Homo sapiens: one gene and its partners. The protein of the gene in region 4 interacts with the protein of the main gene of each other region in a pairwise test. Each region holds a gene or a part of one and is shown on either strand. Other genes may lie near its edges. The genes, in order: TIMMDC1, MTERF2, VAMP4 and STX6.

Evidence for each region.
Region 1: the proteins of STX6 (region 4) and TIMMDC1 interact in binary tests that used the Homo sapiens proteins (3 or more experiments, as listed by UniProt).
Region 2: the proteins of STX6 (region 4) and MTERF2 interact in binary tests that used the Homo sapiens proteins (3 or more experiments, as listed by UniProt).
Region 3: the proteins of STX6 (region 4) and VAMP4 interact in binary tests that used the Homo sapiens proteins (3 or more experiments, as listed by UniProt).

Annotation. Positions count from the first base shown.
Region 1 is NC_000003.12:119,515,547-119,522,572, reverse strand, and holds part of TIMMDC1 (complex I assembly factor TIMMDC1, mitochondrial isoform 1 precursor), read right to left. Parts: intron 5,369-7,026; coding exon 5,258-5,368; intron 1-5,257.
Region 2 is NC_000012.12:106,984,125-106,992,123, forward strand, and holds the start of MTERF2 (transcription termination factor 2, mitochondrial precursor), read right to left. Parts: upstream 3,023-7,999; 5' UTR 2,845-3,022; intron 2,186-2,844; exon of another isoform or gene 1,102-2,185; 5' UTR 991-1,101; intron 1-990. Other genes in the region: CRY1 (cryptochrome-1), read right to left, coding at 7,814-7,877. UniProt on the Homo sapiens protein: Binds mitochondrial DNA and plays a role in the regulation of transcription of mitochondrial mRNA and rRNA species.
Region 3 is NC_000001.11:171,732,062-171,739,087, reverse strand, and holds part of VAMP4 (vesicle-associated membrane protein 4), read left to right. Parts: intron 1-624; 5' UTR 625-673; coding exon 674-739; intron 740-7,026. UniProt on the Homo sapiens protein: Involved in the pathway that functions to remove an inhibitor (probably synaptotagmin-4) of calcium-triggered exocytosis during the maturation of secretory granules.
Region 4 is NC_000001.11:181,012,848-181,019,873, forward strand, and holds part of STX6 (syntaxin-6), read right to left. Parts: intron 1-7,026. UniProt on the Homo sapiens protein: SNARE promoting movement of transport vesicles to target membranes. Targets endosomes to the trans-Golgi network, and may therefore function in retrograde trafficking.

The DNA of each region.
Region 1 (7,026 bases), on a different chromosome or scaffold from region 4:
GACCATTCAAATATCCTCTCTTCCAGCTACTTGAAAATATACAATAAATTATTAACTATAGTCATCCTACAGTGCCACAGAACACTAGAATTTATGCCTCCGATCTAGTTATAATTTTGTATTCATTAATCAATCCCTTAAATCTCCTCTTCTTATGCCTTTCCCTGTCCCCTCCTCAGCCTCCAGTAACCATAATTCTACTCTTTACTTCTATGAGCCCATTTTTTAGCTCCCACATGAGCAACAGAACATGCAGTATTTATCTTTCTGTGTATGACTTATTTTACATAACAATGTCCTCCAGGCTCATCCATGTTCCCACAAATGACAGGATTACATTCTTTATTATGGCTGAATAGTATTCTATGGTGGATATATACCACATTTTCTTTATCCATCCATCTGTTGATGGACACTGACGTTGATTCCATACCTTGGCTATTAATAGTGCTACAATAAGCATGGGGGCGCAGATAACTCTTTGATATGCTGGTTTCTTTTCCTTTGGATAAATACCTAGTAGGGAAGATTGCTGGATCTTACAGTAGTTCTATTTTTAGTTTTCTGAGGAACTTCCATACTGTTTCTATAAAGGCTGTAATAATTTGCATTCCTACCAAAAGTATATGAGTTCCCTTTTCTTTCTACATCCTTGCCAAAATTTATTTTTTGTCTTTCTGATAATAGACATTCTAATTGGGATAAATATCACTCCAATTTCCCAAACTGTCCCCAAACCACATTTCATTGTGGTTTTGATTTGCATTTCCCTGATTAGTTATGTTGAATACTTTTTCATATACTTGTTAGCACTTGTAGGTATTTTTTGAGAAATACAAGTTTCCCCCCAAGCTCCCCCGCCCACTTTTTTTTTTTTAAAGAGACAGGGACTCACTTTGTTGCCCAGGCTGGAGTGCAGTAGCACAATCATGGCTCACTGCTGCCTTGAATTACTGGGCTCAAGGGATCCTTCAGCCTCAGTCTCCCAAGTAACTGGGGCTATAGGCATGCACTACTGTGCCTAATTTTCTTTTGTCTCATGCTGTCACTCAGGCTGGAGTGCAGTGGCACCATCTTGGTTCATTGCAACCTCCACCTCCCAGGCTCAAACAATCCTCCTGCCTCAGCCTCCCACGCAGTTGGGATTACAGGTGTGCACCATGACAATTTTTGTATTTTTAGTAGAAATGGGGTTTCACCATGTCGGTCAGGCTGGTCTCGAACTCCTGACCTCAAGTGATCCGCCTGCCTCGGCCTCCCAAAGTCCTGGAATTACAAGTGTGAGCCACCGTGCCTGGCCTCCAATGCCCTTTATTTCTTTTTCTTGCCTAACTGCTCTGGCTAGGATTTCTAATACTATGTTGAACAAGACTGGTAAGAGTGGGCATTCCTATTTCATTCCAGTTCTTTGAGGGAAAAGCTTTTCACTTTTCCCTGTTCAGTATGATATTAGCTGTGAGTTTGACATATATGGCCTTTACTGTACTGAGAAATAGTCCTTCTACCCCTAACTTTTTGGGAGGTGTTACCATGAAGGGGTGTTCAATTTTACCAAATGCTTTTTCTCATTTACTGAGATGATCATATGGTTTTTTTCCTTCCTTCTGTTTATATGATGTAACACATTTATTGATTTGTGTATGCTGCACCATCCTTGCATCCCTAGGATAAATCCCACTTGTTCATGATGTATAATCTTTTTGATGTACTCTTGGATTTGGTTTGCTGGTATTTTGTTAAGGATTGTTTTGTAGAATACATTGGCCTGTAGGTTTTGTTGTTGTTGTTGTTTAATGAGCCTTTGTCTGTTTGTTGTTGTATAAGGGTAATGCTAGCCTTGTAGAATGAGTTTGGAAGAACTCTCTCATCTTCAATATTTCGGAACAGTTTGAGAATTGGTCTTAATTCTTCTTTAACTGTTTGGCAGAATTTAGCAATGAAGCCATGTGGTCCTGGACATTTCTTTGTTGGGAGACTTTTTATTACCAGTTCAATCTTGTTACTTGTTATTGGTCTGTTCAAGTTTTCTATTACTTCTTGGCTCAATCTCGATAGATTATAGGGGCTCAGGAATGTATCCATTTCCTGTAGCTTTTCCAATTTCTTGGCATACAGTTGTTTCATAATAATCTCTAATGATATGACTATGTCCGTGGTATCAGTTGTAATGTCTCCTTTTTTGTTTTTTACCTTAATTGGGTCTTTTTTCTAACTTGTGGTTTCTTGATTTTGTTTTCAAGAAACCAACTTTTCATTTAGTTCTTCTTTTGTGTTTTTTTGTTTGTTTTTAAGTCTCTATTTCACTTAGCTCTGCTCTGATCTTTTTATTTATTTCCTTCTGATTTTGGGTTTAGTTTGTTCTTGCTTTTCGAGTTCCCTGAGGTGCAGTGTTAGGTTGTTTATTTGAAACATTTCTACTTTTTGATGGAGGCATTTATTGCTATAAACTTCCCTGTTAGTGATGCTTTTGCTGTATCCCATAGGTTTTGGTATGTTGTGTTTCTGTTTTCATTTGTTTCAAGAAATTTTTAAATTTCCTTCTTAATTTTTTCATTGACCTATTGGTTGTTCCAGAGCATATTATTTAATTTCTGTGTATTTGCACAGTTTCCAAAGTCCTTCCTGTTACTGATTTCTAGTTTTATTCTGCTGTGGTCTGAAAAAATATTTGATGTTATTTTGATCTTTAAAAATTTGTTGAGACTTGTTTTGTAGCCTAACATATGGTTTATCCTGAAGAACACTTCAAGATAAGAAAAACGTGTATTTTGCAGCTGTTGGATGTGATGTTCTGTAAATGTCTGCTAGATCCATTTGATCTACAGTACAGTTTAAGTCTGATATTTCTTTGTTGATTTTCTGTCTAGATGATCTGTCCAGTGCTGGGAGTGTGGTGTTGAAGTCCCCAGCTATTATTACATTAGGGTTTATCTCTCCCTTTAGCTCTAATATTATTTGTTTAGATATATATATATATGGATGCTCTGGTGTTGGGTGCATATATATTTACAGTTGTTATTTCCTCTTGCTGAATTGATCTCTTTACCATTATATAATGACCTTGTCTCTTTTTATAGTTTTTTATTTAAAGCCTATTTTATCTAGCATAAGTATAGCTATTCCTGCTCATTTATGGTTTCCATTTGCATGAACATCCTTTTCTATCCCTTTACTTTCAGCCTATCTGTATCTTTACAGGTGAAGTGAGTTTCTTGTAGTCAGTATATATAGTTGAGTCTTTAAACTTTTTTTTATTCATTCAGCCACTCTAAATCTTTAATTGGGGAATTTAAAGTGTTTATATTCAACATTGTTATTGATAGGTGTGGATTTACTCCTGTCATTTTGTTAACTGTTTCCTGGTTGTTTTGTATAATCTTTGTTCCCCTTTCTTCCCCTCTTATTTTCATGGTTGGTAGATTTTTGTAATTATAAGGTTTGATTCCTTTCTGTATCTGCTCTACCAGTGAGTTTTATTCTTTCACGTTTCCATAATGGTAGTTACCGTGCTTTTGCATTCAGATGTAGGAGTTCTTTAAGCATTTCTTATAAGGCAGTCTAGTGGTGATAAATTCCCTCAGTGTTTGCCTGTCTTGAGAAGACTATTTCTCCTTCATTTTGGAAAAATAGCTTTGCTAGGTATAATACTCTTGGCAGGAGTTTTTTGGGTTTTGTTTGTCTGTTTGTTTGTTTTTTCCTTTTAGCACTTGGAATGTATCATCCCATTCTCTCCTGACTTGTAAGGTTTCTGCTGGCAAATCTGCTGTTAAACTGATGGGGGGAGGTAAATGGTGGCAGTGGACCCTGGATGAGCCAGTCTTCAGGGGGTGCACGTGGCAGCTCAGCCACTAGAATTGGCAGGGTTGCCAGTGGTGGAAGACTCCAGGTGAATGACCTTAGAATGGCCATAGCCAGCCATTCTTAAGCTTTTCCATCTCAAAATCACTGATCTCTAAATCACTGACAAACTTCTGCAGTTTTTAATGTTTCATTTACTTTTTTAATTTTTTTTTTTTTTTGAGATGAAGTATTGCTCTGTGGCCCAGGCTGGAGTGCAGTGGCGCAATCTCAGCTCACTGCAACCTCAATGCTTTTCTTCTCATATAGCACTTAAGTCCTTGGATGATGGACCTACAGCTCTTAAGAATTTCCGTGTGTGTGTCTGTGTGTGTGTGGTTAGCAGAAATGGAGGTTTCAAATGAAAACACTGGAAAAAAATGATTTCTCATCTATCCAATTATAATACCAAAACAGCAACAGCAGCAGCAGCCAATGCTGTCTTAGGTACCCAGGAAGGTGAACTAGTGAAAATCATTTGTACTCAGGAGCACTAGATGGCAGCCTGTTATATTCATCTTACATATTGAATCTGTGCAAAGTCAGCTATCAGTCTGATTGCCCTATCCCACAAATTGCATCCCAGGAGATGATTAGATGCAATAGGTGAAAGTTTTCATGTTCCTCAGTGGCATTCAGTGCATGAACAACCATTGTCCACCTAATTCCTCTGCATCTACAGCAAGAAATAGAATTTTTGTGGAGACTTAACATGCTGTGTCTTACTTACATATGTATGCAAAAAAAAAAAAAAAAGTCACTTTTTTTCTTTTTTGAGACCGAGTCTTGCTCTGTGGCCCAGGCTGGAGCACAATCACGGCTCACTGTAACCTCCGCTACCCAGGTTCAAGTGATTCTCCTGCCTCAGCCTCCTTGAGTAGCTGGGACTACAGGCACGTGCCACCATGCCCAGCTAATTTTTGTACTTTTAGTAGAAATGGGGTTTTGCCATGTTGGCCAGGCTGGTCTCGAACTCCTGACCTCAGGTGATCCACCTGTCTTGGCCTCCCAAAGTGCTGGGATTACAGGCATGAGCCACCCTGCTAGGCTAAGGATGTCACTTTTTAAGTAAGCCAGGTAAAGCTCACTCCTTGGTGAATATTCCCTTTAGGTAATTTCCTATGCAGTTAAGAACACAGGAAAAGAAAAAACATGCAAGCAAGATTTACACCACTTTTAACTTAAAAAGATATCCAAAGAAAGATCTTCATTAAATTAAAACTAAAATCAATCTCTTTCATTTTTCCATTCTCCTTAAATAGATTAAAAGACAATGTACAGTATGAGTTGAAGGACTTGGTAAAAATAAACTCTTCTTTGAATTGAGTGGCAGTTTAGAGTACATAAGTTTAAAAGAGCACCACTATATAAGGCCTGGGGCAAGAGAGCCAAGATTCCCTGGGCTCAACATGTTCCTTACCACTCTTCCAGTTTTAGCTCATGGAGTGCCTTTCGATCCTTCTGTTTTCTTTCCTGAACAGTCTCACCAGAGTACTTCTGAAATGCCATCAGCAGGCCTCCTACAGGAGTGCTGAGAAGAAAGGAGAGGGAAAGCTTAGGAAAAACGAGTCATTAGACCTTGCAACATGTGAGATTCTCTGCTAAGGTGTGAGCAACACCAGAGCCACTTGTTCACTATTAGGTACAGGAACATTTGAGAATTAAAGTGTCCTTGTCAAATAAAGAAAAACATTGAGGTAATCTCTTCCTTGGTCTGAACAACAGACAAAAACAATCACTACAACCTCCTAAAGTTAACTGATATATAATAAAACAACAGATCTAGAAACTGGCTGTTTTTATGAGGAATGAGAAATAAATCAAAACAAAGAGGAAAAATATATATATTTATGACAAGTTCTAGTAAGTAGCCCCACACCAAAGATTTCTCAAAAATGAAATTTCTAGTTCAGAATGGCACCAGCTCCTCTAGGAGACAGGAAATGTGGAGGGCATTTCTGGTTGAGGGAGGGATGCTACTGGCTTTTGGGGGTGGGACCACCAAAATATCCTGAAGTTCAAGAGTCTGGCGTAACTGTCTCACCCACAATGCCAATAGCAACCCATTGAGAAACTGATTTAGATAATAATTATTATAGTGATGAAGAGAGTTTGGTTCTTGTGTTCTCAGACTAGAAGTATTTGACCTTCATACACCTTAAATTTCCTCCAGCTACAATTTAAGTAACCTCATACTAATAACTATTTTTGCTAAGTGGAAGCAACATAAATGTTCACTGACAGATGGTTAAAGAAAATGTAACATACACATACAATGGAGTATTATGCAGCCTTAAAAAAGAGGGCAATCCGTTCAACAGGTTACAACATAGATAAACTTCAAGGACATTATTATGCTAAGTAAATAAGCTAGTCACAAAAGGACAAATAGTGTATGATTCCACTCATATGAAGTATCTAAAGTAGTCAAAATCTTAGAAACAGAAAGTAGAAATATATTTGCTGAGGGCTGGAGGGTATGGGGAGGGGAAATTAGTTTTTAATGCATATAGTTTCATTTCTCAAGATAAAAAAGTTCTAGAGATCTCATGCACAATGTGAATATACTTAGCATTTTTGAACTATACACTTAAAATATGATTAAGATGGTGAATGTTATGCTATGTGTTTATTACCACAATAAAAAATATTTTTGTTGCTAACTCCTACAACTTTTCCCTTCAAACCAAACTGGTATATTAACACTACAACAAAAGCAATGGCAGCAGTAGATTATGACATGCTGATTTTATTTAATTCAAATTTTTAAAAAAATCATTAAATCTATAGCATTACCTTCTCCTTCAAAGGAGGTAGACAAAGGGGTGAACAGGTGGAGGACGAAGGTAGCACTCTTCTAGTCAGACAAATACCAACTAATAAAAACAGAAGAACTGACAGAACTAGCTTATCAACATTTACAACCACCTTTCTAGTAACCAACCGATTACAGCATGGGTCGTCAATGGATCATTAAAAACACATGATGAAAAGATAGCTGGAGAGCAGAATATTCAGTTTCACCCTCCAGATTACTAATTAATCACATTGGGAAAAAGATATCTTTGCAATGGAGACACTGAACAGATAACACCTTAACCAAGTGTGGTAGGCAGAATTCTAAAGTGGTCCCCCCAAATATCCTGCCTAATCCCTCAACTGTGAATATATTATGCCCATGATTATATT
Region 2 (7,999 bases), on a different chromosome or scaffold from region 4:
CCTGCTCCTGTGCTGAGCTCAGCCTCTCTGGCCTGAGAACTCTCAAGCCCTTTCTCAAGTGTTTGCTCCTTCAGGTGTATCCTCCTCTGATGCTCCAGCCATCACTCCACTGCTCTTCCTGTCCTTGCCCAAACCCTCTCTCTCTCCACTGCTCTTCTTTTCCCTGCCCAAACCCTATCTTTCTCTTCACCTCAGCTAATTCTTGCAGATCCTTCTTTCTCTCCATTTCCTCTTCTACTTATATAGCTTGCGATAAAGATAACTTTCATGTGGTTACAGCCAATGAGTAGTTTTCATTCTTATCTCTTTTTTTTGTAGAGAAGGGGTTTCACCACATTTCCAGGCTGCTCTTGAACTCCTGAGCTCAAGCGATCTGCCCACCTTGGCATCCCAAAGTGTCGATTACAGGCGTGATGTGGTTTGGCTGTGTCCCCACCCAAATCTCATCTTGAATTGTAGCTCCCATAATTCCCTTGTGTTGTGGGAGGAACCCAGTGGGAGATAATTAAATCATAGGGGTGGTTTCCCCCATACTGTTCTCATGACAGTGAATAAGTCTCATGAGATCTGATGGTTTTATAAGGGGAAACCCCTTTCGCTTGGCTCTCACTCTTTTCTTGTCTGCCACGATGTGAGATGTGCCTTTCACCTTCCGCCATGATTGTGAGGTCTCCCCAACCACGTGGCACTGTAAGTCCATTAAACCTCTTGCTTTTGTAAATTGCCCAGTCTTGGCTATGTCTTTATCAGCAGCATGAAAAAGGACTAATACAAGCCATGAGCCACCACACCCAGCCTTCCTTATCTCTTTTGACTTCTGCAGCTTTTAGCAGAGTTGACCACTTTCTCCTTGAAATATTCTCTCATTTGACTTCCTGGACACTCGACTTTTTTTGATTCTTCTCCCTTTCTATACTTCTCGCCACCCTCTATCTGTCTCCCATACAAGCTCACCTTCAAGGCTTGGTTCTAGACCTCTCTTCTTCTTACCTTACAGTCTCTCCCCACAGATCTTGTCCTCATCCAGATATTCAGTTCATCCACTTGGGATTCTTTCCAACTTCTTCTCAAAATGTGATCTTGTCAGTTCCCTGCAATAAACTTGCCAATGGCATTTTAGGATAAAGACAAAGTAAAATAAAACATAGAAATGCCTTACCATGGCCTACAAGGCCTCTTTGGGCTCTGCCACCACCCTAATTCCCATTTCCCTCTCCTGCACCAGCTGCATTTGCTTCCTGTCAGTCCCTGGTGCTCTACTGGTTTCTACCATGTGGTCTTTGAAGACTGTGGGCCAGATTCCATGCCCAAAATGCTCCAACTTTTAGGCCTAAGTGTCACTTTCTCAAGGAAACTTTTCTAACCTTCACGAATACATGAAGCCTCCTGTCCCCATTACATGATTTCATGGCACCATGGACTTTTACACTTGCGCACAAGTGGTACAACAGCTGCAGCTGTTCACGTGTTGTTTCTGTCTCAACACTACATGGACAGACTGGTCACCACAGTGTTCCAATGAACTGCTTCCCTATCCTTCACCCAGCTGCCTTCACTGCCTCTAGGAGGCATTCCTGGGCAGGTGGCCTTCTGTGTGCTCTTCCACAGCACCCTGCTCCGGACGCTACTGCAGCACTTATTATGCTCTTACAAGTTCTTCATTCTTCCAACCAGTAGGAATTTTGTTGCTGTTTGTTTGAAGTTCAAGCTGTGTATCAGGCATACTAGGCACAGATCTGCTAAAACAACACTTCTTCACACCTCTGTTTGGATCACAGATCAACTCAGAACCTGAGAGTCACAGACTCTCTTTCCAGAAGAAAAGACCCACGCTCACAACATTTCGCAAATGATTTTAGCAGGATTCATGGACACCCTGCAGCCCGGCCATGAATGACCTGCACTAGATTTACAAGCGTTGGGAAGGCAGGAACTGAACGGTGTTCTGCTTTATTCCCTGCACCCAGCAAAGAACTTGTTCCACAGAGAGACAAAATTAGTATTTGTCAGGTGAAACTGAGTGAACAAGTGGATGCGGTACATTAATGCAGTGGGTAAAACTGGGTTAGCAGAGCCAGACTGCCTGATTCCTGGACAACAGTTGTGTTGTGACTTGAAGAAGTTACTTCACCTCTCTGAGCCTCAGTTTGGCATCAGGAAAATGGTGATACTATCTCCTGGGTGACTGCAAAGATCAAACGAGTTAATACCATAAATCACTTAGAATATGCAGAAAACTCTTCACATATACTAAATCATTAAATCATCACAACAACTCATTTTAAAATGAGGAAACAGACGCAGGTAAAGGAACTTGCCCAAGGTTACTCAGCTAAAAAAAAAAACAAAAAACAAAAAACCGGCAGAATTTGGACTCAAACCCCACAGGTTGGCTCCAGAGTCCTGCCTGCTCTTAGCCCTGTGCCCCCACATATAGCAATGCTTTTGGTAAATGTTTGTTAAATCACAATGTGGGCTGTTCTAGGATGCTTGTTTCTTAAGCATTTTTGGGGAGTGAAATTCACTTCTGTAATACACAGTTATGGTTAGTATGGTCTTCTCTACACCACCACTGGTTTCAATAAAGTTCTTCTTTCGTAACACATATGCCCTGCTGCCAGTTTCAAATTGACCAACGTTTATAAGCAAGGAAAAACGAGGGTCCACGGAAGATCTCCAGGACCGATCAAAAGGCCGCACATTCACTGTGGGGCCTCCGCTTTTCCAGAGAAACCCGGCAGGCTGAGCTGAGCGTCTGGCGAGGCGTGGGGTTTTGCGGGCCCTGACCGCTGCGGCGCCGCTGGTGAGGAACACGCCCAGGAGCAGAGGAAGGGGGCGACTCACCCGTCGGCGTCAGCTCCAAGCAAGGCACAGGGAGTCCCGGGGGCCAGGCCCCGTCCTTCCCTCTCTCTCCGGCCAGCCTCCCCACAGTCCGCAGTCCCCGAGGCCTGGAGCCGGGATTTCGGTCCTCGGTCTCAAGAAGCTCCCGACAGTTCTCAGCAGCGCCAACCAGGCCATCAGTCCCTTCGCCCATGGCCAATCAGGGCTCGGGAGATGACCGCCAACCCCCGCCCCCCCAAGACACGCCCCCGCGTCCCAACGCAGCCAGTCAGAGCGCGGGACACAACTACGCGTCCCTCCCCGCACCACGAGGGCGAGTCGGAGTGGGAATCGGCTTTCCAGGCAGCCCAGCCTGTGCTGGCGGGGGCATCTGGCATTTTCACACCCTTTCCTTCCCAGCATTTTAGGAAGCGGAGTTCCAGTAGCTTTGACGCTTAGAAAATATAAGAAAAAAAAGAAGTAACAGAAACCGCTATATCTTTAAGATAGAGCCAATCACTGTTCCCAAAATAATTCAGTTAGGTAAAGAACCAACTTACAAAAGAAATGTTTAAAAAACCCCCAAAGTTCTTTGAAACACATCTGAACTCTTCCCCGCCCCCACCCTACCCCAGCAGTTAGCGACTGTCTTTAAAAGCCATTCTCCTTTCTCTCCCTCCTTGCCACCTTCACCTAAATACTCCCCTTTTCTGATAAACTGCCAAGTGGTTTCCATTCTAATTATTACCGGTGATGCCCAACCTCATACACTAAACACGTTAATTTCTCCTTAAAGCCAGGCTGAATGTCTCTCTCATTTATTTTCACATTTATCCATCCAAAAAACAAGTATTTATGGCAGGCCTGCTAAGTGCCAAGCATATTGAAACAGCAATGAGAAAATAGAGGGGGAATAAAACACATTCCCTGTCCTTATGGAGCTTACATTCTAGTGGAGGGCAGAGATATCAACAACTAATAACGTGACTAATCACACCTAGTTAAGTGTTATCGAGGACAGGGTGCCCTGAGCTGGGCCTGGTGATTCTGTTTGTGTGGAGTTGGAGTCAGGAAAACTGGTTTTCCCAGCTGGAGGTGTCTGCTGTCAGGTGTTCGTAGCACACTGTGCACAGTTCTGCCGTCGGTGGCACTGGCATACAGACTGCCCTCGCACCCTGTGGAGTGAATTCCTTGAGGCTACTGATTATTTTTTCTGTCAACAATGCTGGGCACACAGTAGGAACTCAGGAAATGTTAACTAAATCTTTGAGTCTAGTCTCACTATGCAGTTTAGGCTCAACAGGCTATATTGAGAGGAGCTCACACGTGCATTTAACTCCACTGAGTAGCAGCAAGAATCCTGGCTCCTCAAGATCACCCACCTCTGATCTCTAGGATATTCTAGAATGATCTGAGCAACTCATGTGTACAGCTGGGGGGTGTTTGTCCAGCAACTCCTGAGTTATCCGAATATAAAAACTCTATTATGCATAGATTTATTGCACACTTTTTCCTGAAATAAAATGATTTGGGGTCCAGACTAACCAAAGTGTGTCATTTGCACTTAGGAAAAGGAAATTAGGATACAGAAAAGGAAGTTAAGGAATGTAAACTCAGGACTTAGAACTGCAAGCTGCCATCACTGGTCAGGAGGGAGGGAGCAGAAATGTGCACCAGGGTGCTGGAAGCTTGTATTAGGGCTCCACGTAATTGTGCAAGGAATTACAATACATATGACCCCGTGCATTGTAATCAAAACTTGAAACTGACAAATCAGCTATGCCAACTGTATTAAATAAATGCTACTCAAAGTTTTTTCCAGCCCAAATATTTAAACAGTGCATTTCTAGGACCATATAATCAGAAAAAAAACCTTGAATGAAGAAAAGGGGAAAAGAACTTACAATTATGCATATTATGTACAAGAAAATTACAAACACATTTGAATTGTGAGAAGATCCTGAAATTTCTAGTATGTAAGAGATGCATTAAAAATACTGATAGACTTTTATATCTCAAATTTACTTATTTATTTTAAGCAAATATGAAAAACATAAGGACTTTGTACAGTTCATTCAAAACCCTGGTTCTCTCAATATAATTTTCCCAAGTTGTCAGTACAGTTTTTGGCAATAAGAATTGAAGAAGTATTTGCTGAATGAGTAAAATGTCTTAAATCCCTTAACCACAAGTAGGATTTCTAGTTAAGGGGAGAACACTGATTCGAACATCATGTATCTGCTCAAGTAGAGCATGATGACTGATGCCTTTTCTTTCCCTTTCAGTGATTCATTTTGACCACTATTTACACCAAACTGAAAAAGCTTTCCAAAAAACTCCCTAATAAAAAAAAAATCCTCTTACATTTATAAATAGCATACCAGTGCTTATGCTGAGATAGTGTTCTTTTACTGTTTATTTATTCACATTAAAACTGAATCTTTGGCCGTGCGCGGTGGCTCATGCCTGTAATCCCAGCACTTTGGGAGGCCGAGGCCAGCGGATCATGAGGTCAGGAGATCGCGACCATTCTGGCTAACGGTGAAACCCTGTCTCTACTAAAAAATACAAAAAATTAGCCGGGCGTGATGGCACGCGCCTGTAGTCCCAACTACTCGGGAGGCTGAGGCAGGAGAATCGCTTGAACCCAGGAGGCAGATGCCGCAGTGAGCCGAGATCGTGCCACTGCACTCCAGCCTGGGCGACAGAGTGAGACTCTGTCTCAAAATAACAACAAGAAAACTGAAATCTATGACCTCTTGTACGGTGATGGTAAATCTCAGGTCTATGAATTTCTCAACTCTGCACTGTACAACCAGGTCCAAAGAGTAGGATGTGAGGTACACTTACCATAAAAAACAATTAAAATATTACTTCACTTTAACAGTGGTGAAAAAAGAACGATAAAGCACAGGATTTTTTCTTATTCTTTTTCTCGGTAATGGATTTCCCACCTGCCGCCCCATCCCCGAGACAAGGTCTCACCCTGTCATCCAGGTTGGAGTGCAGTGGTGCAATCATAGCTCACTGCAGCCTCAAATCCCCTAGATCAAGCCATCCTCCCACCTCAGCCTCCCAAGTAGCTGGGACCATAGTGCACACCACCACACCTGGCTAATATTTTTGTTGTTTCCTTTTGTAGAGATGGGGTCCCAAGATGTTGTTCAGGCTAATCATTTTTTTTTTTTTGAGACAGAGTCTCACTCTGTCGCCCAGGCTGGAGTGCAGTGATGTGATCTCGGCTCACTGCAAACTCCGCCTCCTGGGTTCATGCCTCAAGTGATTCTCCTGCTTCACTTCAGTTTCCCAAAGTGCTAGAATTATAGGCATGAGCCACCCTGCCTGGTCTTCTTTACTTTTTTTTTATTTTTATATTGATTTTTTAAAAATAGAGATGGGGTCTTGCTAAGTCTCCAGGGCTGGTCTCAAACTCCTGGCTTTAAGTGATCCTCCCGCCTCAACCCCACAAAGTGCTGGGATTACAGGCAATGAGCCACCACACCCAGCTCAGATGAGGTCTTGATCTGTCCACCCAGGCTGGAGTACAGTGGCACAATCATAGCTCACTGCAGCCTTGACCTCCTGGGCTTCAGTGATCCTCCCACCTCAGCCTCCAAAAGTGCTGGGATTATAGGCGTGAGCCACCACACCTAGCCTCAGTAATGGAATTTATTGATCATTGTTAATTCACTATCCAGGATATTTTTAAAAATGCATATCATCTAAAATGTTATCGTTTCTGTATTTTTACTCAACTTTTATCTTCAGTTATCTTTAAATTATCATACTAAATATCTATCATGATTAATGATGGGAAAATGAAAAGCCACTGGTTATAATTCAGAATGGCAAGAACTAACCTACTAGAGAACACTAAAGGGATAATAACAATACTAATAAAAATAATGGCAGCTAACCAGAGCTGTGGCATACAGCTATGCAGACTGTGCACTGTACACGACAGGGGGTGACACAGCATGGCAGCCCTGTGGCTAACACTGAGTACCCTATCACATGCCAGCTCATAAGTATTTTACATGGAACTGAACTATAAAGCAGATACTACCCTCATCCCTATTTTATAGATAAGAAGAAAGAAGACATAGAAGGTTAAACTTGCTCAAGACCTCAAAGCTAATGAATGGCAGAAATGGGCATTTGACTCGAGAGCTCACTCTATTGATTGCTAGCCCATACTGCCTGATTTATGGTTACAAATGCCATTACTTGAAAAAAGTCCCTTTAGTTTTACCTCTTTCTTGCATATAATTTTGAAAAACACTGTTTAACTAAACATATGGTAGCTGTTCCTTCAAAATGATGATGTGGTTTATAGAATCTCTTTGTAATTTGTAATCATATATCATACAGCAATACTCTCTCCCTTACCAAAAAAGAAAAAAAAACACGTACACAAGATTTCATATTTGCATATACTTTAATAACAAGTTCATTTTAGTAATAAATGAACAAAGAAACAGAGACAGAGAACTTAACACATGATACTTCCACAAGTTTGGGTCTAAAAAGGTTTACATCAAAGTTTAAAACATATACTGTCTGTGTTAACAGAGGCTACAATACCAATTTGGATTACGCACATTATCTAAAACATTATTATCAAAGAGTGCAAAGTTAGATCAAACAACATCAAGAAAATTCTGTCCTAAAATTTTAACGTCTTTTAAGAAAGTCTAAAAACCTCCTTTTTTCCCACTGACTTCAAAACTTTGAGTTTTATATCAGAATATCAATTTGTCATTTTAACTTTACCATACATGAAAAATTATCAAAAATATATCGATGGGTCTATACTAATTGTGACTGTTTATATTTACATTAAGCAAATTCTCTTGCCAAGTTCTTTATATACAAATTACCAATTGTCCTCTGTGAAATTCATTAAAAAGTTAAAAACCACAGAAATGTCATTAGAAACAACATATTTCAATATGTAACTGCTTTCCATCAATGAAGAATATTTTTAAATAACTTAATTGAAAAGTATTGAACTCCCCACCAATTTCAGCTGCAACAGTATTCCTCCTGAATGTTTTCTGTGATTTAAGGGGGAAAAAAAAACTAGGTAAAGCTTGATTGCAAATAATTCAATGACAAAAATGTGATGAGTGTTTATTGACCTTATCTTCAAGATACTTATAGTCTAATTAGGTTGACA
Region 3 (7,026 bases), 9.3 Mb from region 4:
GACACATCACTGCAGCGATTCCAAGGATATGTCAGGAAATGGGGATTAAGACCAAATGAGTATATTTTGTAAATCACGATATCACACCAGTACTTACCAAACTTACCCCTTTTCATGGAGTACCAATGGGACATTATAGTTTGCAGAATATTTTTGCATGTATTATCCAATTTGACCGTCCCAACTCTGCAGAAGCCTGAAAATCAGTATTTTACACCTGAGGAAACTGAATCATTGCTTAAGCAACCAACTAAAAGTGAGAGAAATAGGCATGTTCTCCTGTCTTCTGACTCCAACTTTAAATTGTAAAGCATTTAATGTCTCAGTGAGACGTCCTCCCTCTACTCTCTGCTCTTTCATTTTATAAAAATCTTAAATCACTCATATCCTACACATGTTCTCTTAGGGCAATTACATCCATTTTCTCATAATTTTAACTATTTCTTAGGTGTTGAGGTCTAGCATGGAGGCCCCAGTCACTGGAGTGGAACAAGTGAGAGGGCAGGAATTGAAGTCAGAAAAATGAGGGAGTCCCTGTCATACAGGGTTTCATGTACACTGTTTTAAGTACATTAGCTTATGCCCCAAAGTCTCAAATCTGATGAAATTTATTTTCTCTTTAAGGTGGTGACTATCCTGTTGAGAAGCAAAAGATACTTTGCAAGTAAAAAATATGCCTCCCAAGTTTAAGCGCCACCTCAATGATGATGATGTCACAGGTTCTGTGAAAAGTGAAAGGGTAAGTTCGGAATCTTAAGCTTTAAAAACAAAAGATTCAAAATATGTTTTCATTCCCTTTGTGAATAATAGAAGAAAAACCATCCGGGCGTGGTTGCTCATGCCTGCAATCGCCGCACTTGGGACGCTGAAGCAGAATAGCTTGAGCCCAGAAGTTCAAGACTGTCTTGGACAACCCAGGGAGACCCTGTCTCTATAAATAATTTTTAAAAAATTAATGGGGCATGGTAGCACATGCCTATGGTTCCAGCTATTCAAGAGGCTAAGGCAGGAGGATCACCTGAGCCTGGGAGATGAAGGCTGTGGTGAACTGTGATCTGCACTCCAGCCTGAGCAACAGAGCAAGACCCTGTCTCAAAAATTAATTAACTAATAATAATAACAACAGAAAAATCAAAAGCTTATGACTATATTCTAATCCTAATTGTTTTCTTCATAGCAAATGTATTTAAAAACATGTTACTTAGATTGGTGACAACTGAATTCTACTTCCATTATTGATCAAATCATTATTCTCATAGCTTCTTTCTAGTTTTTGAAAGGGAGTTTTATACAAATACACAATATCTTATTCAGAACTTTGAATGTATTTGGAATTTTTCAGATTTTAGAAAGTTAAGAACATATTATGTAACAGCATTTTTGGGGCCTGGACCAGTGCCTCCAAAAATATTAATATTTCTCAGTGAAGTCTATATTTAGTTATATCTAACTAACTATGTAAATAAAGTGTGTAAATAAACTAGCTAACATCAGTTCAGGTCAAATTTTCCTCCAAAACTTTTTGATTTTCAGAAGCTTTTAGATTTTGGAATTGCAAATAAAGGTCCCCAGACCTGTAATTATCTTATGTTCCAGAGTATCTTTTATATAATGCTTCAATTTCTAGTTTATTCCAGAACATTCTATGCAAATATATATAAATCTAGAAATTATGCCGCATTTAAAAGACAACATTTTATATGAATGTTGTAGGCAGATTACTTTTAGAATAAGTACTCAATACATATTTATTGGGGGAAATAATTCACGTTCTTATTTTTTTAATGCACCATTCTGAAGCCCTCCTTCCTTTCCTTCTTGTCTTGATTCATTCAACAAATATGTATTGACCACCTCCTATGTGCTAGGCACTGGGCTAAAAATTGGAAGACATAGTCTGTGCCCTTGCAAAGCTTTTAGTCTGCTTTGTTTTACATGCTCTTTTTGGACAACCTCAGAACTTCATATTATCCACTCTGTCCACCATCTTATGACTTTTAGTCATAAGTTTCTTTTAGTACAACACAGGAAACATTTTCTTCCCCTTATTCTAACCCTTTGTACAGCTTTTGCGGTTTTGTGTGTTTCTGATGGTTTGTTTTTATTTTTTGAGACCAGGGTCTCGCTCTGTCATTGAGGCTGAAGTGCAGTGGTGCAATCACAGCTCACTGCAGCCTCCACCTTTTGGGCCCAAGCTATCCTCCCACCCCAGCCTCCTGAGTAGCAAAGACTACAGGTGCATGATATCATGCCCAGCTAGTTTTTGTTTTTCTCGTAAAGATGGGGTTTTGCCGTGTTGCCCAGGCTGGTCTCAAATTCCTGAGCTCAAGTAATCCACCTGCCTTGGCCTCCCAAAGTGCTGGGATTACAGACATTTGACACTGCACTCGGCCTGTTTTGTTTTGTTTTGTTTTGTTTTGTTTTGTTTTGTTTTGTTTTTTAATGGGGAAATAGAATCCACCAATAGATTAATTGCTAGCAAGCTTTTACTAATAAACTTTAAGGAGTCACCAATGATTTCCATGTTGCCAAATCCAGTTACTCCTTCTTTGCCATAATTTCAACTGCTTACTAGCATTTGGTGCAGTTTCAACCATTTTGGTCACCTATCTTTTCCTCCATGCCATGGTGAAACTCTTAGTGTCTGCTTGAGCTAGTTCCCCATGCAAGGAATTGAGAAATGCCTTGAAATATACCAAGTCTGGGTGAACCCGGAAGGCTCTGGCCGAGAGAAGGCAGAGGATGATCAGGGATTGAGAAATCACTCAGGGATAATCCAGGGTCTCTTTCTTTAATGTAATATCTTTCAAGATAAACCTCCAAGAAAAAGTGATTCAGAAAATTTGATATACCTGTGCTGGAATTCCATACACTGAAGATTTACTATCAAAAGCATGTCTTGGCCAGGCGTGGTGGCTCGCGCCTGTAATCCCAGCACTTTGGGAGGCCGAGGCGGGCAGATCACTTGAGGTCAGGAATTCAAGACCAGTCTGGCCAACATAGTGAAACCCCATCTCTAGCAGAAGTACAAAAATTAGCCAGGTGCGGTGGTGCACACCTGTAATCCCAGCTACCTGGGAGGCTGAGGCAGGAGAATTGCTTGAATCTGGGAGGCAGAGGTTGCAGTGAGCCGAGATTGTGCCATTGCACTCCAGCTTGGGTGACAGAGTGAAATTCCATCTCAGAAAGAAAAAAAAAGCATGTCTTTACAAAGCAGAAGGTTTGGCGAAATACTAAACCCATTCAGAGAATAAATGTCAATTTGTTAAAGTAAATGATACCAATTGTGAACCTATAAAGGAACCCAGTGTAAAACAACACAGACTTGATATGCATCCAGTAAAAGCTGACTGAAAGCTCCTGATGAATATTCAGTGATCAGCGTGCACAAAGCATGCTGAAATATTTTTTAAATCATCGGTTAGAAGAATCTGAGCCTCTTTCCTATTGCCCCAAGGAAATCTTTAGTCACTTACCCAGAGATGCTTGCAAAGCATTAATATCCTGGAAGATGATCAATAAATGCTGACAGTTGATTGACTGATATCTGAGATATGTCAGGTAAATACCTCAGTCCTGGACAGAGAGCCCCTAAGTCACATCTGCCTTTGTGTAAGATGAAGACTGAAGTATGGAAATGTATGTAGTAAAATCACCTCTCGGAACTTGTTTGTAATTCATACAATCTATGTCAATTTTGAAAAATGTATGTAAAGCAGAGAAGGTTGTAGCCAAATTCAATGTATAGTATGCAAGAGTATATTATTTAATAATTTTTAATTGATGCAAATCCCATTAATTTTATAGTTTTATTTTTACATGATTTTAAACTGAAACTATTTATATTTCCTAAGTTCCCCTGTGTTTCTTTCTCACAATCACTGCTGAACGTAAATTTGTTGTTCACTTAATGGAATCACTGTTAAGGACACAGTCACTTGAATATGATTGCTTTTTAAAAATCAAGTCCAGGCGTGATATACTAGGATCACAGTTTCATGGCATGTTGGTCATAATCCTGAGAAAATAGTGACAAAATTATTATTTGTAGATATTAAATACCAGTTTAATAATATGTGTGGAAATCAGATTAAATAGTACATAAAGCCCACCCTAATAACAAGGGCAGGAAAAATTACTTCAAGAAAAACAATAGTAAACCTTAAATTAAAAATAATACAAATAAATAAGCTTTATGAATACATTTTTAAATTTAAAATGTATTGTCTCAATAAATTCCACTGCTGAGACTGTAATTGTATCACTTTCTCCTTATATTCTTCATTGATTATTAGTATATTAGACACCAGAACTGAATAAAATTGACTGTTTCAAGAGAACTCCTTTTTGATGTTTATTATATTATGAAGTTTGATAACTGATTGGTTAGAATAATATATAAATTACTTTTAAAATCTTTTAAAAGTTTTGTTCCTCTTTCCTATTATACTTTTTTGGTAATAGCTTTATTGAGATAAAAGTCACGTACCATACAATTCACCCACTTAAAGTGTACAATTCAGTGAGTTTTATTATATTCACAGAGTTGTGCAACAATCACCACAATCAATTTTAGGATATTTTCATTAGCCCAAAAAGAAATGCTGTGCCCTTTTGCAGTCATCTCCCATTTTCTTTATCCCCTCAGCCTCTAAGCAACTGCACTCCTATAGATTTGTCTATTCTGGACGTTTTCTGTAAATGGAATCATATAACATATAGCCTTTTGTGACTGGCTTCTTTGACTTAGCATAATGTTTTTAAGATTCCTCAACGTTATAGTGCATATCAGTGCTTCATTTTTTTTTTTTTTTTTTTTTGAGACGGAGTCTCCCTCTGTTGCCCAGGCTGGAGTCCAATGGTGCGATCTCGGCTCACTGCAACCTCCACCTCCTGGGTTCAAGTGATTTTCGTGCCTCAGCCTCCCAAGTAGCTGGGATTACAGGCGTACACCACCACGCCCAGCTAATTTTTGTATTTTTAGTAGAGATGGGGTTCCACCATGTTGGCCAGGCTAGTCTCGAACTCCTGACCTCAGGTGATTCACCCACCTCGGCCTCCCAAAGTGCTGGGAGATCTTCATTCCTTTTTATTGCTAATAATATTCCCTTATATTGATATAACACATTTGGTTTGCCCATTTATCAGTTCATAGATGTTTGGGTTTTTTTCTACTTTTGGCTATTTTAAATACTACTGCTATGAGCATTAGCATACCAGTTTTTGTTTGAGCATGTTTTTATTTCTCTTTGGTGTATACCTAAAGGTAGAATTGCTGAGTATTGTAGTAACTCTCTGTTCAGCCTTCTGAAGAACTGCCCAGCTGTTTTCCAAAGTGGTTGTACAATTTTTACATTCTCACCGGCAATGTATGATGATTCTAATTTCTCCACATCCTCACCAACACTTAATATTATCTGCCTAGTGGGTATGAAATATTATCTCATTGTGTCCTATTATTCTTTTTTGACACTGTATCCCTAGCACTTGTGTTTATTCAATTAATATATGAAAAAGCATTGGTTTTCATGTGTGTTTCTCAGTGTACAATTATAGTAAACATATCTTTAGTATCATTATCCTCTAAACCAAATAAATTATTACTATTACTATTATCATTATTATTTTGAGACAGGGTCTGGCTTTGTCACCCAGGCTGGAATGCAGTGGCACGATCAGGGTTCTGCAGCCTCCTCCTGGGCTCAAGCAATCCCCCCAAGTAGCCTTCAGAGTAGCTGGTATTACAGGCATACACCACCACGCCTAATTTTTTTTTTTTTTTTTTTTTTTTTTGTAGAGATGGGGTTTCACCGTATTGCCCAGGCTGGTTTCGAACTCCGGGGCTCAAGTGATCCTCCCTCCTCATCTTCCCAAAGTGCCAGGGTTACAGGCGTGAGCCACCATGCCCGGCCATAAACCAAATACATTATATTATAAATGTAATGCTTGTCTGTTACTTGTTAGCTAGAATATTACTCAAGAAATATTTATTTAAAAAATGACCTAATGCATTTCCTTGAATATTAATTGGTTTTGAACATTTCATGTGGTCATTGGCCATTTCTTCTATTGGGAATTATCTATTTCTATTCTTTGTTTTTCTATAATGTCTCTTTTTCTTACTAGTTTGTCAAAGCTTTTTATATAATACAGACATCAGGTCTTTTGTCTTAAAGGATACTGCAGATGTTTTTTCCCAGTCTGTTGCTTGTTTTTTAACCTTGTTTTTGATGTCTTATGTTCAAGTTTTAAATTTTTATATAATCAAATATGTTAATCTTTTTCTTTCAGACTTCTGGAGTTGTGTGTTGTTTAGGAATAACTTACCCATCTTAAGAGTTAACTATTTATATATTTTCAATCTTTGTGATTTCATAACAAAATATGTCTAAGGTCCCATTTTCCTTTAAGTACTGCTGTGGCCATACTCTTCAGATTTTGACCTGTGATCTTCCCAGTGTCTTTCATTTCAAAATAGTCTAATCACCTTTATTTACATTTAACATAAAAGTTAATGAGAAGGATGTTTTTTGTTTTTTGTGAGGTTTTTTGCTACAGGGTCTCCTTTTGTCACCCAGGTTGGAGTGCAGTGGCATGATCATAGCTCACTCTAACCTCAAATTCCTGGGCTTAAAAGATCCTCCCATATCAGCCTGCTGAATAGCTAGGACTACAGGCATGAGCCACCATGCCTGGCTAATTAAATTTTTTTTTTTTTTTTTTTTTTCCCATAGAGACACGGTCTTGCTATGTTGCCAGTGCTGGTCTTGAACTCCTGGGCTCAAGTGATCCCCCCACTTTGGCCTCCCAAAGTGCTGGGATTACAGGTGTGAGCCACTGCACCCAGCTGAGAAGAGTATTTTAAAACTTCCTTTTTCCATCGCATTATGGTCAGAGAATATGACTTGTGTAATTTCTATTTTTTGGAATTTATTAAATGTCCTTTGTGGCTTACCCATAAAGGAAAATAAAATAAAATTTGCTGTCTAGTTTCAAAGTTCTAGATTTTTTTGTGTGTTTGGCTTC
Region 4 (7,026 bases):
ATTTTTAGTAGAGACGGGGTTTCTCCATGTTGGTCAGGCTGGTCTCAAACTCCTGACTTCAGGTGATCCACCCACATTGACCTCCCAAAGTATTGGTATTACAGGCATGAGCCACCGCGCCCAGCCAATTCTTCCATTCTTCATAAATAAAAAGTTGATTCTGGCAAACCAACCTCATTTATTTTTGAAGTTAGCCCAACATTGATCCCTCGTCAGATAGTTGAGCCTCTTCCATACAACCTCCCAATATGGTACATCACCAAACTAGCCTCTGGGGCCACAAGTAATACATTCAGTCCAAATACAGTCCAAAAAAAAAAAAAATCACAAAGTTTTCTTACTTGCATCTAACCAAGTTTGCCAAGTAAAATGAGAAGAAAGAGTATCTCAGCCATTAGGGAGCTTTGTTCCCCAGTATTTGTCATTCAGTTGTACCAACAAATTGCGTAAGTGTAGCCACAACCCCCATCATCCTTTTTCCTGTTGTGGTTGAGACAGGGTCTCACTGTCAACCAGGCTGGAGTGCAGTGGTGCAATCACAGCTCACTGTAATCTCGAATTCCTGGGTTCAAAGGATTCTTCCGTCTCAGCCTCCCAAGTTGCTAGGACTACAGGTGCACACTACCACGCCAAGCTAATTTTTTTTATTTATTGTAGAAACAGGGTCTCGCTGTTGCCCAGGCTGATCTCAAACTCCTGGCCTCAAGTGATCCTCCTGCCTTGGCCTCCCCCTTCATCGTTTTGATTTATCCTTTCTTCTTTGCCCATGCTGGCAGACTCTGAATTGGCATGTTCTAGTTATCGTGGTTGTTTAACAATGACCCCAAAATTTAGTGGTGTAAAACAACCATTTATCATGTCATGGAGTCTGTAGATCAGGAATCAGACACAGCAGAGCTGACTTGTCCCTGTTCCACAATGTCTGGGACCTCAGCTGAAAATATTAAACAGGCTGGGGCTGTAAAGGCATCACATCTCTCTATCTCTCCACAGTCTGCACACATGCTCTAACAGAGTGGCTTCAATGTAACTGGACTTGTTACATGTTAGCTCAGGGTAGCCTATACTTGTGTTCCAAGATGAAAGATGCAGATGGAAGGTATAGTGGTTGTCTTTTATGACTTAAGCTTCAGGAGTCAAGCAGCGTCACTTCTGCTTCAATCTGCTAGTCAAAGCAGTTTATAAAGGTCTGCCCAGGTTCAAAGGAAGGGAATACAAACTCCAGTTTGATAAAAGAATGCCAGCTTCACAATTTAATAAAAACAAACAGCCGGGCGTGGTGGCTCACGCCTGTAATCCCAGCACTTTGGGAAGCCGAGGTGGGTGGATCACCAGGTCAGGAGTTCGAGACCAGCCTGGCCAATACAGTCAAACCGTCTCTACTAAAAATACAAAAATTAGCCGGGTGTGGTGGCATGCACCTGTAAACCCAGCTACTCAGAAGGCTGAGGCAGAAGAATCGCTTGAACCCAGGAGGCGAAGGTTGCAGTAAGCCGAGATTGCACCACTGCACTCCAGCTTGGGAGACAGAGCAAGACTCCATCTCAAAAAAAAAAAAGAAAAAAAAAGAAAGAAAAGCAACACAGGACAGAACATTTATTGGTGCAGCCATCAATGGAAAAAATACAATCTGCCACAACTCTTTTATCTGGGACAGCACCTACTCTGCAAGTCTTTACAGAGGGATCCCCATTTCATCAATACAGTAAAAGAGGCTAGTCAAGGCTGAAAGTTTCCATTCTAGTAATGAAACATGAAAAATTCAGGTTGAGTGAGCCTCTGCAACACATCAGACTCCCACTCCTCACTCTTCTCCAACTGGTTCCTGCCCCATACCCCACAAACCTGGTTTCACCACTCATCTCTCCAGAAAGAGAGGAACTCTTTTTATTGCTTGACTTCTACATTCACATCGTTTGTATTTGAAAGGAAACACATGCACACCCTTTACTTGACTTTATTGCCATTTCCAAATTCAACCACACTGTGACATATTTTGTAATTACTCTTGTGAAAATGAAACATCATTTTTACTCAGTTACCTACAATTATATACAATTTTTGACCCTAACTTACTGCTGCTTCCACAACTCCACCAATGACACTGCAGGTCAAAGTCACGAGTGAATTTAACTTGTCCTCATTTTTGGTGCACTTGACACTATGGCCCATTATATCTATTTGCTTGAAACTCTCACTTTCTCTGTCTCTGTGACATTGTGCTGTTCTAGTTTTCTACCAGTTTTCTCCTTCCTCTTCCTCCACTGGATCCCAATGTTTCTCAGTACTCTTTGTGGCCTCTATGTGCTCATCAGCATTCACAAGTTCAAAGCACCCCTCTTAAGCTGATGACTCCCCCACTATACTTCCAACCCTAACCACTCAGCCAGGCTTAATTCCTATATTTTTAGCTGCCTATAGGATCATTCCATTTGCCTAAAACCAAATTAATCATATCCTCCCTACAAAACATAATGTATTCAAAACAAACAAAATAGAAAAATCTGCTTCCCTTTCTAGCTTCCTCATTTTAGCCAATAGTGCCACCATTTTCCAAGTTTCAACACTTGTCTAGACAAGAGTCATTTTTGACTCCTCCTCCTCCTTACCTTGCACAACCTCTACTTAAATCCAATCACTGAATTTTCAGATCTGGAAAGAACTTTCAAGATAATCTAGTTTGTGCTCCTTAAACATAAATAAGAGACCTTGGGGCTCAGACATATTGGCTGCTTGCCTCAAGTTCTTCCAACCCTGATTATAAGACACTTTCTATTACCAAGACTTATTTAATTGCATTTTTCCAAAACTTCCACACAAATCTTTTTTTTTTTTTTTGAGAGGGAGTTTTGCACTGTCACCAGGGCTGGAGTGCAGTGGCGTGATCTCAGCTCACTGCAAAAGAGGGTTCAAGCAATTCTCCTGCCTCAGCCTCCCAAGTAGCTGGGACTACAGGTGCCCACCACCACACCCAGCTAATTTTTTGTATCTTTGGTAGAGATGGGGTTTCACCATGTTGGCCAGGCTGGTCTCGAATTCCTGACCTCATGATTCGCCTGCCTTGGCCTCCCAAAGTGCTGGGATTACAGGCATGAGCCATCGCACCTGGCCCACAAATCTGTTTTCTTTGTAGAATCAGAAGATCTGGGTTTGAACCCTTAAAAGCTGACTATAAGCAAGTGAATAGTAACTGCTAGTTTAAAAACTGCCTCCTGATTTAGAATTTATGATAGAAATCAGATTAAATTTAAACTCCTCAGGCAGGTATTCAAACCCTCTCCCACTCCTCCTCCTAACCCAAACTGGCTGACTTTAGTATCAAGCATGGTTTCTCACTGAACAAATTCTGTTTCAGTTGGCAGGTCTTCTTCCCATCTTTATCTTTCTCATTCCTGGTTCTTGACTTCCACTCAGTTGTTTCCCCAGCCTAGAAGAGCCTTACACCTCAGCAGACACTTCCTTTAAGGCCCAGATTGACCAGCATTCCCAGCATGGGTCTTTCTTTTTTTTTCAATCTCCACAGCATCTCAACTCTACTGCAAAATCTTACACAATATATCTTTCACTTATCTGCATAGTGTTCTCCAAACTAAGGAGCTAAATAATATTAAACACTCAAATTTATAATAAAGGCTTGCAAATTTGTTCTTACAACGAAACACTGGATTCTGCTTTTTAGAAAGTATTAAATTTGATTTACATTCAATTTTACTAGGCCAAAATTAACAAACAAGGGTTATTTTTTTCACAGTGACTATACCAATACAGTTTTTCAACAGTGAATAGAATGCGTGATGCCCTCGAGGAGCTCATAATCTAGTGTTAATAAAGCTAGATATGCAGACAGAGAAGGTTAAAGAACACAACATAACATATACCATCTTACTCATCAGCTTACTTATGTCATTATTTCAACATCAATCCACAGCCAAAAACCTGGAAATAAAACTGTTATCATGCTGGGTGCGGTGGCTCATGCCTGTAATCCAAGCACTTTGGGAGGCCGAGGCGGGCAGATCACCTGAGGTCAGGAGTTCAAGACCAGCCTGGTAAACACAGTGAAACCCTGTCTCTACTAAAAATACAAAAACTATCCGGGCGTGATGGCGGGCTACTCGGGAGGCAGAGGCAGGGAGAAGTGCTTGAACCCGGGAGGCGGAGGTTGCAGTGAGCCAAGACGCGCCACTGCACTCCAGCCTGGGTGACAGAATGAGACTCTGTCTCAAAAACAAACAAACAAACAAAAAAACCATCCTCGGCTGGGCGCAGTGGCTCATGCCTGTAATCCCAGCACTTTGGGAGGCCGAGGTGGGAGGATCACGAGGTCAGGAGATCGAGACCATCCTGGCTAACACAGTGAAACCCCGTATCTACTGAAAATACAAAAAAAAAAAAATTAGCTGGGCGTGGTGGCGGGCACCTGTAGTCCCAGCTACTCAGGAGGCTGAGGCAGGAGAATGGCGTGAACCCGGGAGGCGGAGCTTGCAGTGAGCCGAGATCGCGCCACTGCACTCCAGCCTGGGCAACAGAGTGAGACTCCGTCTCAAAAAAACAAACAAACAAACAAACAAAAAACTATCCTCATCAGACACACAAAACCTCCACAGCAATAAAATAGCAAAGAGCCATGGTATTTGTACCTTTTATCCACAGGAGTGGCTCACTTATACTCTGTCTCCACATGCTCAGTTACATGGTTTTCTTCAGGGTTTGTCTGATTAGAAGGTGCAAATTCTAAAAGGAGGCTAATTCTAAAAACTTGCCAACAAGGGAGGAAAAAAACTACAGAACTAAACAATCAAAATGGGTTCACTCAACAAACACTGAGTACATCCTTACTGAATACAAAGATGAAGACTACAAGATTTAAATATGATATTTTCACCCGGAGATTAGTAAAGATTTTTTTAATGAAAATCCCAGTACTGGAATCAAGGGAATTGGGTCCCTCAAACACTTTGAGGGGCAAGGGGGAATATTCTGGAGGACAACGTGGTAGTATGCATCAAACGCTTTGCTGTGCCTGCCCTCTGAATTAGCAATTATGCTCCAGGAATACAGGCTATGAAAATCAGAAGCAGCAATACAGACCTATGACAAGTAGGCTTATCACCACATTAATTGTAGTGTGATCATAAATATAATGTATCTTCCAGGATGAACATTTATATGACAAAATACAATGCAGTCATTAAAAGCTGCCACCCAGAAGTCTGAAGGATATAAAGAAATACAGATGAAAACGTCATAAAACAGGCCAGGCGCGGTGGCTCATGCCTATAATCCCAACACTTTGGGAAGCCAAGGTGTGTGGATCACCTGAGGTCAAAGTTCAAGACCAGCCTGGCTAACAGGGTGAAATGCCATCTCTACTAAAAATACAAAATTAGCCAGGCATAGTGGCGCACATTGGTAGTCCCAGCTACTTGGGAGGGTGTGGCAGGAGAATCGCTTGAACCCAAGAGGTAGAGGTTGCAGTGAGCTGAGATCACGCCATCGCCATTGCACTCCAGCCTGGGCGACAGAGTAAGACTCTGTCCCAAAAAAAAAAAAAAAAAAAAAAAAAAGAAAAGAAAAAGTGATAAAACCATATATAACGTATAATCCCAATTTTTAAAATGACCATATTATATATATAATATATATTTGTAATAAATATATAAATCCTGGCCCTTCTACGTACAAGCTTATAAAGTTGAAGTTTTTTACTAAGTTTCATTTTCCTTTTTGTGAAATGATGACAATAATAATACCTACTTCATAAGGATAAAAGAGCAATCCCTGTTGTGGGATTCTGTTCCGAACAGGACATTGACAATGTCAAAACCTCCCAAAAGGAGCTTCAAACTTCCAAGCACTAACCACTGCATGTATAAGTTACAACAGCTTTCTAACTGGTCTCCTTTTTCATCTTTCCTCACACTGATGCATCCAACACTACCACCAAATCAATATTCCTAAAATCCTAATTTCATGTCATTTCCTTGCTTTAAAAATCTGTAATGGCCTCAAGATGAGATTCTCCTTAGGCCAACATAACTTGACCCTATTTTACCTGCACTGGGAAGTATTGACAGTAGTGTGAAATCAGGTTGTTCTAATTTGAAGCCTGAGTACACCACTTATTAGCTGTGTGACCCTAGGCAAGTAAGTTAACCCCTCTAACACTTCCTCAGCTTCTCATCTCTAAAATGTGGCTAGTATTCATCATATGGGTGTTTTTACAGAGTGAAAATTCATATAAAGTGCTTACTTAGCACTTTACATGTATGCCTGGCACTGGAGATGCATCCTTTAAATGTGAGCTGTTACTACTTCCCTAAACTGTCTACTCCACCTGGGCTGCTCTTCCAGATCATTTCTAACACACATTGCCCAACTTAGGCCTTTGGCTGGTGGTGTTCTCACCCATGAGGCACCATTCCATCACAATCACCACCATCAACAAAGAGTATGTGTTCAACATTTACACTATATATTCAAGGTGTAGGCTGGAAATACAGAGGAAAAAAAAAAAAAAAACAGTCCCAAACCTCAGAGCTCATAGTCTAATAATGAAAGAGAGACAGAGGAAGAGGTCCAATAATTAGGGGTGACAAAGGAAGCACTTCCTGGAGGCAAGGGAGATGCTTACACTGACTCCAGAAAGCTGCGTGGGTGAATCAGGCAGTGTGGGTGCATGTAGAGTAAGAGCATCCAGTACAGCAATCACAGTCACTGTATTGAGTCTGGCACTGCTGGAGTACTAAGGCTAAGGGAGAGCAGAGGCTAGATCAGTGAGGTCAGGAAGTGTTGGCACTTTATTCTGCAGGCCAGCAGCAGCCACTGAATAATATTAAGTAGGGTACACCTGTCTAGGACTCTAGAAAAGCTTACACTGTGCTGTCCAACACGGAAGCCACATACAACTACTGACTGGAAATGTGGCTAGTGTGACAGAAATTAAATTTTAATTAATGTAAACTTGGTAACTGATAGCAATTCAGTTATCAAAAACCTTTTATGTATGTTTGGAACAATTAAAGA